2 separate regions of the Homo sapiens genome follow, and region 2 is linked to region 1. Evidence: fine-mapped expression QTL. Tissue or cell type: esophagus mucosa. Region 1 holds a variant in brackets; the other region holds the start of a gene. All regions are shown on one strand. Distances are between the middles of the regions.

Region 1 (8,266 bases):
TCTGATCATATTATGTTAGACTCAGTTTCAGTGACTTCCGACCACATATGGAGTAAAGTACAAATGCCCAGCCCAGTACTCAAATATTTATCTGGCTTCTACCTATCCTTCCGCGATTGTTCTCCATTAGACTCCACTCCCTGGAAAGAAACACTTAGGTCCTCTGTAATCCTCCACTGCCTGTCCCAAAGACTGTGCTCTTCTCCTTCCACTTATAACAAATCTCTTTTGTCTGCAGTGCCTCTCCCTTTTTCATTCTTTCTCAGTTTGTCTATTGAAGAATAAGCTTAAACCCCAGCTTTTCCAGAAACCCTTCCAAATCTCGCGGTTGTAATCAATCTTCCCTTCTTTTCTCCCGAATGCTCCCATGACCATTTGAAGTGAATCTCTACCAATCTTTTTAAAAATGATATGTGTGTGTGAGAGGGCACACATGCTTATGTGTGTATATGTGTGAATATGTATATGTATATGTATACATCACACACATACACACACACATATATATATATACTTAGACTCCTTGAGAGCAGAGATCTGTGTCTTAACTTTGTTTTTTATCACGTACAGCACCACCAAAGGGTTTTTCTCAAGATGCCGTACTTAAGAGTTTGGTGGAGAATCTTGTTAAATGTCTGTGTCTACTGTGCCAATCCAGATTCACTTGTCCTTCTGAGACCTCAAGCGATTTGGAGCAATAAAACCTGTACTCTCTGTACTTTTCTTTGCAGGCTTAGTCACTTTTATGGTACCTATTTCCTGGTGACACATATTTACTTTGTGGTCAGATGTTTTACGATAAATTAGGTGCAAATTGGGACTCAGCTATCCAGGTTCCTGAAACATCTCAGGACACTTTCAGACAGTGCCCCTTGAAAATCTCATAAAGCTTACCCCTCACCACAGTCAAAGGCACATAAGTAAATCCACATAGGTTTACATGCAACTGCAGAAGGTTTGTAAACACTCTCTCCTCCCTGAAAATCTATTGATGGTGGCGGGGGACAGGAGTGTGGTCATTGGATCCTAGGTTAAAAGTCGTGGAACTGGGAGGATTTTTACAGTTACTAGAAATGTAAATGCAAACAAAATTTCTAACGTCACTTAACACTGGTAGAATGACTACAAAAATTTAAGAAGTTAGAGCCACTTAGAAAGTTCCTAAAATATCAGGGAGAGCATGTCTCACTCTTACATCAGAATTCTAGAAAATTCAGGAAGCAAATTTATTTTAAATACTTTTTGTTACAAGGCATATAACATGTTTGAACTAGTATGCTATTTCAGCTTTTAACACATTTTCTCAATTATCTGCTAGTATGTTAACTAAATAATTTCCAAATGCAGATTAAAAAGTATACTAGATCTGAAAAATTAGAATTAGAATCGTCCTTGAAGCATTTTACCTTTTTCAGAGCTAGCCTTTTGAATCAGAGGGATACACTTAAAAGAAGTTATAGCAACAGCAATAAAAACCGTTTGAAGATAATGTACTGTGATATAATTTAGTTATCACCAGCAAATTGTAAAGTAAAATTCTACTTAGAAATTAGATTATATTTCAGCAAAAACATAAGAATTCTGTCAGTCTCTTTTTTGGTTGTTTGTTTATAAATTTGTTCCTCAGTTTTTGTTTGTTGTAGGACCTCGAGAAAAATATGTTTTCAATTTCCTTATTCATTTATTTTTTTCATTTAATCATCCTTTCGACAATGCTTATGGTGAGCACACTCCGTTGACACAGCACAGTCGGCCCTCAGTATCTGTGGGTTCCACATCTGTGGCTTCAATCAACTTCAGATCTAAAATATTTGGGGAAAAAATGTGTCTGCACTGAACATGTACAGTTTTTTTTTTCTTGTCATTTTCCCCTAAGAAATAGAGTATAATATGCATTTACATTGTAGTTGGCATTATAAGTAACCTAGAGGCAATTTAAAGTAGATGGGTGGATGTACATAGGTTATATGCAAATACTCTGAGACCTTATATCAGGAACTTGGGCATTCTTGAATTTCGGTATCTGAGAGAAGTTGAACCAATACTTCATGAATACCGAGAGATGAATGTTCTTGCTCCTAGAAGGGCAAGATTGAGGAAGGTGAGTTGACTCTTGTTTTCACAAAGTTTATTCTCTAGAAGGTAACAGACTAATAAGCAATTATTTCAAAGTAGAGAAATGGCTCTGAGATCATAAAAGGCAGGCTTCCGGGTAGATGGAGGTATTAGGGAGGTCCTTGTACAGGAAGCGGTTTCTAGGGAGACCTGGGGGAAGAGTACTGCCGGGTGGCAGATAGGAATGAGCAGGCCCCCTGAAAGGTCAGCCATGGGAGAAGGCTTAGAGATGAGAGGAAAAGGACGTTTAGAGCAGGAAATGTAAAAAGAGGAATGGGAAGAGATGAGATGAGAAAGTGGGCAAGAATCTGATCAAAGAGCATCATGTGGTTCATGTTAACAATTAGGCATTTTCCTAGGGACAGTGGGGAGCCTCTGAAGTATTTTATGAGTCTGTTTGGCATTTTAGAAAAATTACCCTGACTCAATGTAAAAAGGGGATTGGATAAAACAGGCAAATGTGTTAGCTCACTGCTGGGTTGAACTACTCTGTTGGGGTATAGCCCTGAACTTACAGTTAGGGACATAGTTAGCTCTCCTAATTATGGTGTACTTTAGTTCTAGTGGTTCTCAAACCTGATCAGTAGAGCCAACCAGTGAGCTTTTAAAAAGGCACATTCCTGCCATCCCCCTGCCTCACCTAATTCAGAGAATCTGGAGAAATGACCACACACCGTGCTATGTCCTTGCACCATTCATAGGTGACTTACGTACTGGTGAGTATATCTTTGAGGGGACCACCAGCTCATCATTGTCCACTCTGGACCATTCCAACTTTGGAATCCAGGAGGCTGTCTCACAATGGGAGATGCCACATAGCAGCCTACAAACACATTCCTCTCACAGCCATGCCCAGCAGGAGCCCTAAGTTATCCATATTGCCTCTTACAACATCCGTAATAGGCTTATTCCAAATGTGTCTTCTGCAATAAAGTTGTTCTTGATCATTCTAATCAGACATGATTTCTCATTCCTTTGCATTCCCATAGGACTTTGCACTGTATGATAACCTTTATCATTTTGCACATTATAATCTCATTTCTTAAATCCTGAGACTTGGTTGGTTTTTGGTTTTGCCTAGGGTAATAACTTGTCAATACCTATTTAATTGACCCGCTTACAGATATAATAGGGGGAGGATGGCTTCAAAGAGAAAACATACAAACTCATTTTTTAAAAGCCTGTATCTTTGAACACAAAGATGAAAAGTAAAATAAACATTAGCTCAAGAGGAGACCAGAGGTTGTAGAATATTGTATTGTCATGCCTGGAGAAAAATAAACACTCGATTTCCAGATTTTTTCACTGGGATTCTAAAGCATCAGAATAAAGCAAATCGACTTTAGGGGAAAATAGAGGTAGAAAGATAATGGGGTTCTTGCAAGTAATCCCCTGGAGGGTACAGGCAAAAAAGAAAGGTCCTTTAAGGAAACAGAACTTCGTAACAGTTATGGGTGTAATATTTACCATATGTCCCATATGTTTTCAAATTACAAAAGTGCAACTCTTTCCCACAGCGCATTTGCAAGTGGACCTGACAACCCCAGGCCACAGAAATCAAAGACGGTAATCTACCATAAATTCTGCCACGCTAGATGGAACGAATATCTGTCAGATTTTTTAACTTAAACTTCTCTTCCTTTAAGAAGGCAGCATCTGGCTCTAAACTGCACATTTAATTTAAAAATCCTTTAATAACAGCATTAATTCTCATCGTTTTGCATTCTAGCAGTCTGTGACAAGCAAGCATGCGCTGCGTGCGTCAGGCAACCAGACTGCAAAGAGGAGAGGAGGCTGGGGAAGCCGAGGCGAGAGTTCAGGGAGGAGGCCGGGGAAGCCGAGGCGAGAGTTCAGGGGGCACTGTTTGCCTGGAGCCCTGCTCCGAGATCAAATCAGGGGCCGAGGACGTGTGATAACGAAGGAATAAAAGTTAGAATTCTTTTTGTCTAAGCAGAAGATATCTTTCAAATAGGACAATGCACTTGAAGCTTATAAAAAGCAAACTGGGCCCTTAAGAAGGAGAACTCAGCAGTGGTGACAAAGGCCAAGAATCCTGATCTTTGGACACGAAGTTAGACTTGGCTTCAATTGCAATTTCTAATGATCTTATTTTTGTGCTCTCCCTTAACCCTGGCTCAGTGCTTATCTTTTTAAATGACTTGTTCCCTTTCGTTGAAAAAGCAAAACTGGGAACCTCTCACAAAGTAAAGGCCACACACCCTCTGTCCCCA[C/T]CCTAGGGCAGGGCGTGCAAGGAGGGAGGTGCCCTACTAAGAACTGAGAATTTACTAAGAGTAAATTCCTCCCTAACGCTTAGCAGCCTGACTTAGGAAAGAGGGCAGGGTGGCTGTGATCCAGAAGCTGAGGGTGTCCCCAGAGATATAAGGAAGGGGATGTGCTGCAGTGACACACCTGGCTTAGGGGGAGAAGGCAGGAAGGGCAGAAACTAGCTGGGTTGGGGGGTGGGGAGGCAGGAAGGGAAACCGAGTTTGGAAGAAAGGGCCCCTTCTAGTGAGACTGAGTAAGCACAGAAAAAAAAAAAAGCCCCTGCTTTGTGTGGCCTCCCTAGAGCCTGGGGAATTTGCAGGAGATAAAAGGCCAGACATTTCCCCCTGAAGACTGCAGGGTAGCACCTTTGTTTGTGAATGGCACACACCCTGGGGTGGGGATTCCTTTGCGGTTGCCATGACGGCCTGTCACACAAAGTTACATGTCCTGCTCTCTCCTCCCTGCCGCCCCAGCTGTCTTAAAATGGCCTGGATTTTAACTTCTGCATTCAGAATGGAGGAACTTTGCTTCTTAGGGTTTCTAACGCAAATGACCTAATTTTAAAGTCCATTTCCCTCCGCCGGCCGAGCAAATCTACATGAAGGGTACCCTGAGAATATTTTATTTTTGTATTCAGTGCCTTTTCAAATTTTCTGTTTTATGTAAAGCTGTGTTTGGGGCATTAACAATGCATAACGATAACCACTTAACAAACACTGCGAAGGGAATCTGAAGTAGGTGGCCTCTAGGGTGGGGGAAGAAAGAATAGAAAGATAATTCTCTGAGACCGAAGAAATATTTCCCTAACTATGATTTCACAGTAAAAGTTTCCTAATAAAAAAATGTTGTAAAGGAGGGTCTTTTAAAAAGTGGTCTGTGGTCTGACCCCTCTTCAAATTTACTTTTATGACTAATGTTGGGTGACCAAGCAATTATTATACTACTGAAAAATCTCATTAACTGCCTGAAAAATCAGCCAGTAAAGTGGGCCATGTCTGGTTTCTGCTCAACCTCATAAAACCTTTGAAGTCCCATAAGCGACCACATAATGACAGTAGAACTGGGGATGCCTCGACAACCTTCTTTCCTTCAGTCCCTCAGCTCGGCTCTAGAAGGCAGGCCCTGAACACCAGGGATTTTTGCCCACTCTATTCACAGTGTCCCTGGCACGTAAGAGGTGCTCAGGAAATATTTGTTAAGTAAGAGAAATTTAATTATTGTGATATCTGAGGGATTAAAGCCAAAAGTTAACCATAATAATATCCTAGATGATTTGAGGAAAATAAAACATTTATGCTGGGAACTTTTTTTAGATAAGATGTTAACTTGTATTTTCTTTCCCTGCATATTAGATCCCTTTTCTTCTCTCTGTTGAAGCCAGTAGCATGGGCTGAGCCTGTTTCCTCAAGGGCTCCATAAAGTCATATCCCAGCAAAAAGCCTAGTATGGTGTTTCTAAAATTACCTAACCTTTGTTGCAGACAAAATATCCTTGCAATAATCACGAAGAGAGAAAGATTTTCTCAAGCCAAGAAAGAGATGGTCAAGGCTGGTTGGAGGCACGCTGGTAAGAATGGAGTTCTGTGGATCTTGGAGCAATGAATATTTGTCAGAAGCAGATCTTTGGGGCTGGCAAGAGCTCAGATTGGGGATGGTTACAGTTGGAGGAACCATGAGCAGCCTAGAGAAGACCCTTATGCACCAAGTGTGGTAGGGGAGCCCCAGAGTCAGGAGCGCCTGTCCTGTGGGCACAGTGAGCTTGAGACAGCTGTCTTGGAAGAAACATTTGAACAGGGCTTCACACTTCCAAGGTCTTGACCTTCCTCAGACCCCCTGAACACAGGTCTCAGAGGAGGGAAGGGGAAAGTCAAGATACACTGAGGTCAAATGGTCCTGCAAGGGTATTAGTCTGTTCTTATACTGCTGTAAAGAATTTATCGAGACTGGGTAATTTATAAAGGAAAGAGGTTTAATTGATTCGCAGTTCAGCATGGCTGGGGAGGCCTCAGGAAACTTACAATCATGGCAGAAGGGGAAGCAAACACGTTCTTCTTCACACGGTGGCAGGAATGACAAGTGCCACGCAAAAAAGGGAAACCGTCTTATAAAACCATCAGATCTCACGAGAACACGCTCACTATCACAAGAAAAGCATGAGGTGACTGCCCCCACAATCTCATCGCCTCTCACAAGGTTCCTCCCCCAACACATGGGGATTACAATTTGGATTACAATTCAAGATGAGATTTGGGTGAGGACACAGAACCAGACCATATCAGCCAGCTATGCAGGAAGGGGTCCCAAAATACCATTTAAATTAGCTCATAGAAAATATATTGCTCTTTCTTCTGGTACAACGTGAGTTTTTGAATGGAGATTTGCACGGAGTATACATTATTTTAAAGCAATGCATTTTAGAGCAAACACAGATATACTTCGTATTCATATGAATTTATAAAAGCAAATTCATACTTCAAAGAAACATCATGCTCCCTTGGGCTGTGACTTCTGTCTCACTCAACTATCGGTTCGATGAAGCAGAAACTGTGTTTTGCCTGTAATGTCTTCCCAGGGCCTGACACATCACCTCACTCAGAGGAGGTACCAAATATTTGTTGAAATAATAAATGAATGCATGACCTCCTCTGCATGCATTCAATAGAAAATTTTCAGATATTCTCAAGATGATGCAAAATATATGTACACACCAGGCACTATACCACTGTCTATTTTTAAAAACATGGTTTTCTTAGGCAGATGTGTATCATTAGCAGGTGTAACTACGAATGATCCTATGGGTCTGATGATATGAGCAGATTAAACACCCTCTCACATTCGTTTGCATTCTCTCTTGGAGCCAGACTCTGAATAAAACAAATATTAGCTCTCTGCCTTTTATATGTTGTTTTCTTCTTTAGGTTCTTTCCAGCCATTCTGTGTCCAAATGGCTTTACAGTAGTGTATCTTCAAGATGCCTATTCTTTATACTTTTACTTTCCAACCATTCCCAATCTGAGAAACTTTTTCTCATCCAGTGCATGTCAGTACCCGGTGAGATAGATATATTTGGTACGTATCAGTAGAGGCATATTCTGTTGCTTTCTTCTCAGCACAAATCATAATTAACACCTGTCAGACTGGAGACAGTGATATGTGTACTTTGAGCATGGCTGAAGGAAAGGGAAGACGTGGGTATAGTCAGGGATAGCATCAAAACTTTGTACTCCCTGCAAGGGCAGGGGCATCCCCAATCAGAGCAGCGACCACAGCAAAAAGCACAGCCTCCCCTTAAACTACCAGCACAGCCTCACTGGTGTGCACCACCTGAGCATCCCGCCAGGTACCCGTCATCAACCCAACTCATCACCTCCAACGGAACAACCAAGAGGTGCGGTGTTATCACGGGTACGGATCTGCTTCCCACCTTTCACCAGAATACCTCCATGGCCTCTCCCTCAGCCCATGTGTTGACTTTGCCTGTCTTCAGCTTTGCTGCTATTTTAAACTTGGCTTTCCTGGTCAGCCTGGTGCAATCAGACCACAGGCACGAACCCTTTTACGACGTACCTTCCGCCCAGCCCTTCCCCTTCATTCTCCTGCCTCCACCCCAATCCACGTCCTATCTCCTTGCACAAGAATGACTGTAACAGCTTCCATACCCTTGGTCTCTCTGCCCCTGGTGAGTCCATTCTTCACACCTCTTGGCGTTAGTCTAATTAAAACCCTGTCTGTTCTGTCCCTCTACTATTCAAAAGATTGTAGTGGCACTAATTGCTCTAAGGAAAAATTCCAAATTCTTTGGAAACTTTCAAAGCTCCATCTTCCATTCATTCAGGCAACAAGTTTTAATTGAGCAGCCACTGTGTTGCACATACACTTTTAGGTAC
Region 2 (8,000 bases), 430 kb after region 1:
AGCAAGGATTTAGTTGCTCCAGTTGCAATGTCCATCTGAAGGCAATTATCTCACTGATCCACCAACCGAAGGATGCACCTCAGTAAGTTTACAGACAAGAGGTTTTAATATAAATCCACCAATTGTTCTTCAGCTGACTCTGTCTGGAGGAACCATTCAAACACATAGTTTTTAGCAAGCTGGTCTCCAGGCCCATGGCGAATTCACCTGTCCACACACTTTAGCTTAAGTCAGAAGCCTCTGGAAATGTTGGAGTCATCTGCATGTCTTTGCGTCGGCAGAACCAGCGTCAACAGCTTATGCTTTGTAAAAGATTTAGAACCAGGTGCTTAGCAAATCATCTTAACCTCCAGCTCCTGTTTCTGGGGCTTGAAGCTGTAACTGTTGAGGTTAAGATGTGCAGTCCCTAGACACATGATTCTCAAATAAATTCTCATCTGAAAAGAAGGCTACCAAGCATGTTGTGAGGTATCGCTTTAGCTTAGTCTTTGTGCTCTGCCTGGCTCAGTTGTCCTGCAGAACAACGACAGTCCATTACCTACAGTTTATCATCCTGACAAAATGTGAGGAATGTGGATGTGAAAGCACTAACAATTCCACCCCTGGTGCTTTGAGCTTTTTTCTCTCTATATTAAAACCGACAAGATTAACCCAAACGCAAACTGTGGAGCATAGTTCAAGGGGCTATTCAATCAGTGCTGAATGTGCATTTGTTTACCTACAAAAATAAGAATTTCAGACACAATGGAAGGCAGGCTGGCTTATATATGTTATTGAATGGACTGTTTAAACAGCACTATCCATTGTAGTTTATTTTATCAATCTCTGACAGGTCTGTATTTATTCAGAGCCTGATTGTGGTGAAGCCCATGTATTATACGTTATCTGGATATCATCCAGCCATTCTTTTGTATCAAGTCAATTAGTATCAGGAATCCAGTATTATATAGGGAAAAAATTACATGGGAAAAGCAAAATGCTATGTTAACTAACTAGTATGTGATGCACAGGGAATGGTAACCCCAGACATAAGGCATTAGTACTCGAAATTTTCAAAGTCAGTGTAATGCATTGCAGAACACCATACCAATACAGATTTGCTCACATTAAAGTAAAATTAATTTTTTTTTAAAAAAGAGCCCACTACTTTACTTAGGCCAAAATCTCCCTCTTGGAAGAAAATGTTCTACTGAAGTGTTAAGTTAAAAACGGAAGCTAGGCATTACTGTTCTCTGCTGAATTAAAAAAAAAACAAAAAAAAAACCAAAACTTTAAACAACCAAAATGGCTACAACGGACCCAACTCTACCAGAACGTATCAAAGCAATGTGAATAACCTAACAGGGCAGCTACTGTTTCAGCACGCAGGACATCTTTCCATTATTACATACAGTCAGGGACGGGAGAGCCGACAATGTGATTAAAGTAGTTACGGAGACGCTGAATTTACAAAGGGTTTTCTGGACCCTGTATCCAAACAGCTGCTGCATGCTCCCTGTGTCGACCACCTGCTAAAAAAGCTGACCTCTGAATGAAACAAATCTAATTACTGATGGCGGCTTCATTACAAATGAATTGTTCCACAGTTCATAGGAACTGATGTGAAACTTCAATGCATTTGATTACCTTCCTGCCACATCATATTTACCGATTCAAACTTTCCTCTGGAAATAAATATAAAACTTCCCCAAGGAAAGCGACCCCCTGTCATCAGGGGGTTGTATGCATTCTCAAAAACTTAGAGAGGACTCTTTCCTATGGCTCCTACAGGAAGAAATCTTTCTGATCTCTGGAGCTAGCATTCAGCTGCAAGGGAGACCTTTTCCAGGCACACATTATCCAGTCATCCAGGCAGGCCGTTATCAGGAGAATTTTAAAAGAAATGCTGCTGTGGAGGACAAGACAGCAGCAGCAACCTCAACCGCGCAAACGGCAGGCTTCCAGAAACGCAGGGCCCTCGCAGGTCTGGACATAGCTGGAAAGACAGACTCATCTTCATCATCAGAATGGGGGGGGGGAGTGGTGAGTACCTGTCACCTCCCCCCAGGACCCCCCATCTCGACACATTACAAAAAGAAGTTATTAACGTCTAAACCTTAGGTTGAAATAACTATTGTTCTACTTTTCTTTTTCTCCCAACTAGGTATTTCTAATTCTCCTACCGGATACACACAAACTAATAGTTAATATAGCGCAAAGATAAAGATACACACACCGAACTAAACGCTGAAGAGGCTAACGGAATTGCTTTCAACTAGATTTAAACAGAAATATTAAATCCTCATAAGAAAAAAAAAAACAGCCTCAAAGAGAACCGGTCAGTGAAAGTGCAGAGTGGCTGGAGCAGGCGGCCTGGGGGAGGGGCGAGGCCTGGCGCTGCGCGATTCCGCATGGAAGAGTGACCTCTGGAGGCACCGGGCGGGCAGCGGCGCCGCGGGCTCCCCGCGACCGCCTCGCCCGCCCGCCCGCCTCTCCCGGACTCCGGGACCCGCTGCTGCGCGAGGTCCTAGCCCGGCTCCTTCCGGCACCACCTGGCGCCTCCCGAGCCGGCATCGATGCAAAGATGCCGCCGCCAGTACTTCATCAGCAAATACAACAATTTACATTAAAAATATAATCCATGCAAGAGCAGACTACATGGAAGGAGGCAGAGCTAAGTAACTTCTCCGTATGAGCGGTGTTGAAAGTGCCTTCTAGCATCATACAAACATTTGTTTAAACCGATTTGTAACCGACGTTTTCGCCCTTTTCATGAAGGGATTCTTGGTTAACATGTTAGTGAATTTGAAATTTGACACTTTTAAGAGAATGGACACACTCCTTTAAGACGTGATTTCTAAATCAATCCCCCATTTCTTTTCTCCTAAAACCAGGCCCAACTTGCTCAACTTCAATTAGGCCATTGATTTTGCTTCTGATCTCAAACGTTTTCTCCAGAAACCAGCTAATGTCTGCATACTTCTTCTCCAAGTTTCCCGAGACTACAATTCCAAGATTCTGTAAAATATGTTTTGGCTGTGATTCGAAATAAGGGGATACACAGTACTGAATACCCAGATGACTACGAGTTATGACCACACAGATTTAGGGATGGATGGGATTTTCTAAATTCTGAATGCACTCTGGTGGCCCAAACTGAAAGTTACTCTCCACAAGGCCTGGCTCGCTCCCGGCTGTAGAGTCCGGTAAGAGCAAATCTGATCCTAAGGATCCCATTCCTACCAGGGTCCCGAGGGAGAAGGCTTCAGGAGCAGTGTCGACTGGGCAGGGCCCTAAGCTTTTATAGGAAGTGCATTACAATCAGGTCGGCCATCGAGACCGCATACTCCGGGGCTACCGGCTTATGAACGAAGCGGGAGGCCGAGGTGCGGCGGGCCCTCAGGGAGAAGCCTAAGGCCCGTCTCCCCGGCGCGGAGGAAAGGGCTCGACGCCCGAGTTCTCCTGCGAAGCAGGCGAGCTCCCCGCGCACCCTCGGGCTGGCGGCGCGGTGCCAAGGCGCCCCGGCTCCAGGGCTCTGCGGGCAGCGTAGCGACTCCAGGCTCCCCTCTCCAGAACGCGCTTCGCTGCCAGCGTCCTGCCACCCCGGTCGCCCGCCCGCGGGCCCCGGACCACGCCGCCCGCGCTCCCCGCGAATGCAGCATCTCCGCCTCTCTCCAGAGCCCACCAGTCCCCGCGTGCCGGCCAGCCTAGATTGTGGCCATGTCCTTCGTCCTCGAAAACAGGAGAGGGTCAGGTATCGCCATCGGACACCTTCCCGGACTTGACACCCGAGCCGATAGTAGCTTTTAGCGCCTGGGAGCGTTCGGGGGAGGAAAGGCGGAGAGACCGTCCGTTCCAGCGGGGCTCGGGTTGGAAAGCCGAGCGAGGAGTCTCCACCTAGTGAAATGGGGCGGGGGTTGGGGGTGGGGGACGGGGAACCGAGGTTCCAGAAACAGGCTCCGAGGCCCCGCGGACTGACCCCTCCTCCCGCCCGGACGGCGCGGCGGACCCCGGGGCGGGGACATAGGGGGATCGCGGACGCCACTTACTTGGAGTTCGAGGAATTCCAATAGATAGGCTCTAAAACTATCGATTTGGAAATCGCAGTTCTGCATAAAACCATCAAAACACCCCAGCAGTACTTCCACACGGAGTCCCTTCTCACAGCCATGGCGAAGCCACTCCCAGCTCCGCGCACTCCGGGCCAAGAAGGGACTGACGGGACGCAGGCTGGGACCCCCAATCCTCCGGGGCAGACTGGCGGGGAAGACGGCGTGCGCCCGCAGGCAGCTCCGAGGCGCGCTGCGCAGCTCCAGCGGTCGCCGGGCCAGGTGCGCTCGCTCTCCGGGGCCCTCAGGGCGCGGGGCGGGAGCGCACGCGCGGGGCGCGGCGGCGCGGCGGACTCGGGGTTCCGGGGCGCCGCGCCGGACGCAGCTCGGACGGCCGACTCCCGTGCGGCTCCAGGGTGCCGGGCCGGCCGCGGCTGGCGGGTGGGCGCGGGGCGGGTGCGGGCTGGGACACAAAGACCCGGAGCGGAGACGACCGGCGCGGGCGGCGGGCGCTGCGCCCCGAGCGGGGCCGCCTGTGACTATAGATCCAGTGCAGCGGGCAGCGGCCCGAGCGCGCGGGCGCCGCGTCGGCGCGGTTCCATGTCCCGGAGCACGGAGCGGAGTAGGGCGCCTCCGGGCGCGCAGGAGCCTTCTCAGTCCGCGCGGCTCCCGGCCCCCAGGGCAGGAAAGAGGGAGCTCGGTCCCCGCCGCGGGCTCCGGACGCGCGCGGGCCTTTGTGTGCGGGGAGGGCGCCGGGACCCGCTGCGTGCGCAGCTCCTCGCTCCGGCCGGCGCCGCGGTCCCCGCCGAGGAGAGTCAGCGCGGCCGCCGCGCTGTCAGAGCGCTATAAACGCGGGGCCCCGCCCCGCCGCGCGAAGCCCATTGGCCCGCGGCTCCGCGGCCGCGCGCTGGTTGGACGGCCGGTCCGTCCGTCCGCCATCCCCTCCCGACATTGGGTGCCGCGAGGCGGGGCTCGGGCTGACAGGTGAGCCCCGCCCCTGGCTCCCGCGGGCGGCGGGAGCGGAGCAGAAGCCGGGCAGGAGAAGCGCTCAGCGCGTGCACAGGGCGCCCCCGGGGCGGCGAGAGGCCTTCTGGGCGCGGTGCAGACGTGGAAACAGCGACGGCCGAGTAGCGGGCCACCTGTCTCCGCGCCCGGGGGCGCCTTCCCCCTCGGCGGAATCAGAGGGCGCGGCTTTCCCTCGAGCAGTGCGGAAGGCAGCAGGCTCCGCTCGGCGTCCCTTCTCCGCAGATGCGGCGCTGCCCCGCGTGCAAGACTTGCACTCCGCGCGCACCCTTAGAGCTCCCGGCTTCTGCGCGCTTCTCCCGACGCCTCTCGGCGAGGGCTTCTCACTTGATTTTGGTACCAATCGCCTACGGCTCAGTTTCAGTCAGTGGGGCCGGGAATTGCAAGACGATTCCTGCGACGCGGCGCCGGAATTTGCAGCTCTAATCAGGGCCTGAGCATCGTCGCCTCCCGCCTTCTCTGCGGGCGTCTCCCTTCCCTCCTGGCCCCCCGGGAAGGTGGCGCCCCTGGAGCTTTCCCCGCGTGTCGCCGGCACAGGCACGACGCGGGGACCGTCTCACTAGCCTCTAGGAGACACGCGCGCTTCCCAAAGTGACCAGAGATTTAGAGGGTGTGAGATGGAAAAGTCAAGGCATGTGCTTCTCACTCGGCGTCTGCAAGACCCCAGAGCAGAGCTGGCAGGAACTCCTCGCTACTTTCCCGGTCGAGCGCCGGTGCTGACGCTCGTCCGTGACTTCCACGGAGCCACAGCGCCCACTAGCGGCCAGCTTTGCTTCTCCGCATCTCGAGCGCTCTGCGGTCCACCGACCCGGATCCAGCATACTGCAGCATCTAATCAAGTCACAGTTCCAAGGAAAATCTTTTTATATGTCCAACAGTAGGAAGAACACGGTAGAAATAAGGCACAGTGCAAATGTACGATTCAGTATGAAAAATTAAAATATACTGTATGCCCACGTTTTTTTTCAATTTAATGCCGTCCACCCCAGGATTTATGTTTCAAACACAAACTGGGCAGTAATTCTACAAATTATGTATTTTTAAAACAAAGTATCCACTACGCTAAATTTAAAAATGCATATGGTAAAACACCTTGTTTTCTTTCACTCTTCTTTGTAACAATTTCTGAAGATTTTTATGGTACGTTGCTTTTAAGTATCCGTTTTTGAAACATTAGTCTAACTTAACGTATACATCTCAGTTGGAGTGGTAAAAGCTTGTGAAGACTAGTTTAAGATAGAAAACACATTAAGGCATACAAAGTACTGAATACACTTACTCTTCCAAACAGATCTTTGAGAGCAGAAAAGTTTCATAATTTATTTTCATTTTAAATAAGCCTTCAAACTAAATATATATATACACACATATACGTATACACACATATACACATATTTATACATATATACACATATGTACGTATATATATACACACACATATATACGTATATATATACACATATATATATGCACACACACACATATATATATAAAATTTATTTTAAAAAGGCTCCACCACGGTATGACGATTTGAACAGCGGATTCCCAGGAAGCACCAACAACCCAGGAAGCAGCAGGCACTATGACTCCTACCTTGACAAGGGTGAGAAAGGGCTAGTTTTTAGTATGCTAAAATACCATTTAAGGAACTCATTGAAATTGAATATAAAGTTAGCTTAATGATCTTTTAAAAGAACACTGGGTACTCAGTACCTTTTGACAAACTTATATTGTGAAATTTAAATTGTGACCTCTTAGCTCACTACATCCTCCTCTCCAAGTAAACTAGAGGAAATACAGGAAATTTGCATTGTCTGAAAATAAGCCAGCTTCCAAAAATAACATTTTCAGTAAATCAGAAAGTCTCACATCCAAAGCGTTTTACCTTGGGACAAATGTAAATATACACTTTAAAATCGCTTCCTTTTCAAAACAAAGTGCGTATTTGACTGAAAAGGAATCCTACACACACACAAAACATCTATAGTGTGAGAGAATATACAGCTTAGTTTCAGTCAACAGAGATTCAATGTAGACAATGTGAAAAGCATCAGCAGTACTCACTTCGAAGATGTCAACATTCTACTATTTAATGGTAATTTTGGTAATTAAAAGCATCACCTCAAAGCCATTTGTATCTACTATTGTATAACATGCCAGCAAAAAAGTAGGTCATACTGGCATGCACAAGGCAAAGTAGAATTTCCAAAGCATGCCAAACCAAGAACCAATCACATCAGTGTCGTATCTCTTGGTATTTGGACTTCATTTTACAATTATTGGGAAAACTTGGTTAATTTTTTTCTTTACCACACTTTGAATCATGATCAATGTATTTCGAGAAATCTATACTTTTAGCAGATGTATTTAAACCCTCATCAAATGAGATTTTATTTCAGCAGAGGAAGTTACTTCACTGTGTTCTAGACTTAAGTTTTGAAGGCCGGGCGCAGTGGCTCACGCCTGTAATCCCATCACTTTGGGAGGCCGAGGTGGGCGGGTCACGAGGTAAGGAGATTGAGACCATCCTCACTAACACGGTGAAACCCAGTCTCTACTAAAAATATAAAAAATTATCCGGGCGTGTGTCGGGCGCCTGTAGTCCCAGCTACTCGGGAGGCTGAGACAGGAGAATGGCGTGAACCCAGGTGGCGGAGCTTGCAGTGAAGCCGAGTTCACGCCACTGCACTCCAGCCTGGGCGGCAGAGTGAGACTCAGTCTCAAAAAAAAAAAAAAAAAAAAAAGTTCTGATAAGTCAAATAAATAAGGATTTGGGAATTTCAAAGGATACCATAGTTATAAAAGTTAACACAAAGCTGAATAAATGTAAAATGAGATGACAAATAGATAATCGCAGCTTTAAAAAAGTGCAATTCCCCACCTCCAACAAAAAAAATGCAAGTAATTATGTTCCTACCCCTTTGAATTCCTAGGCATGTTTTGGGCTTT

What was found. PIP is the estimated chance that this variant, and not a neighbour inherited with it, causes the effect.
Region 2: EFNB2 starts here. The variant in region 1 is fine-mapped to the expression of EFNB2 in esophagus mucosa (GTEx, PIP above 0.99).

What each region holds. Positions count from the first base shown.
Region 1 is chr13:106,096,037-106,104,302 of GRCh38, forward strand. No RefSeq gene overlaps it. Among named protein-coding and RNA genes, the nearest start is that of LINC00460, 280 kb to the right of the region's middle. RefSeq lists an enhancer at 4,258-5,125. The variant C/T (reference allele first, on the strand shown) is at 4,347.
Region 2 is chr13:106,530,815-106,538,814 of GRCh38, forward strand. It overlaps EFNB2 (ephrin B2), which reads right to left and starts at 4,848. Exons shown (of 5, transcript NM_004093.4): 1 at 4,029-4,848. The coding sequence starts at 4,150. RefSeq lists silencers at 2,287-2,346, 2,407-2,506, 4,636-5,295 and an enhancer at 5,876-5,945.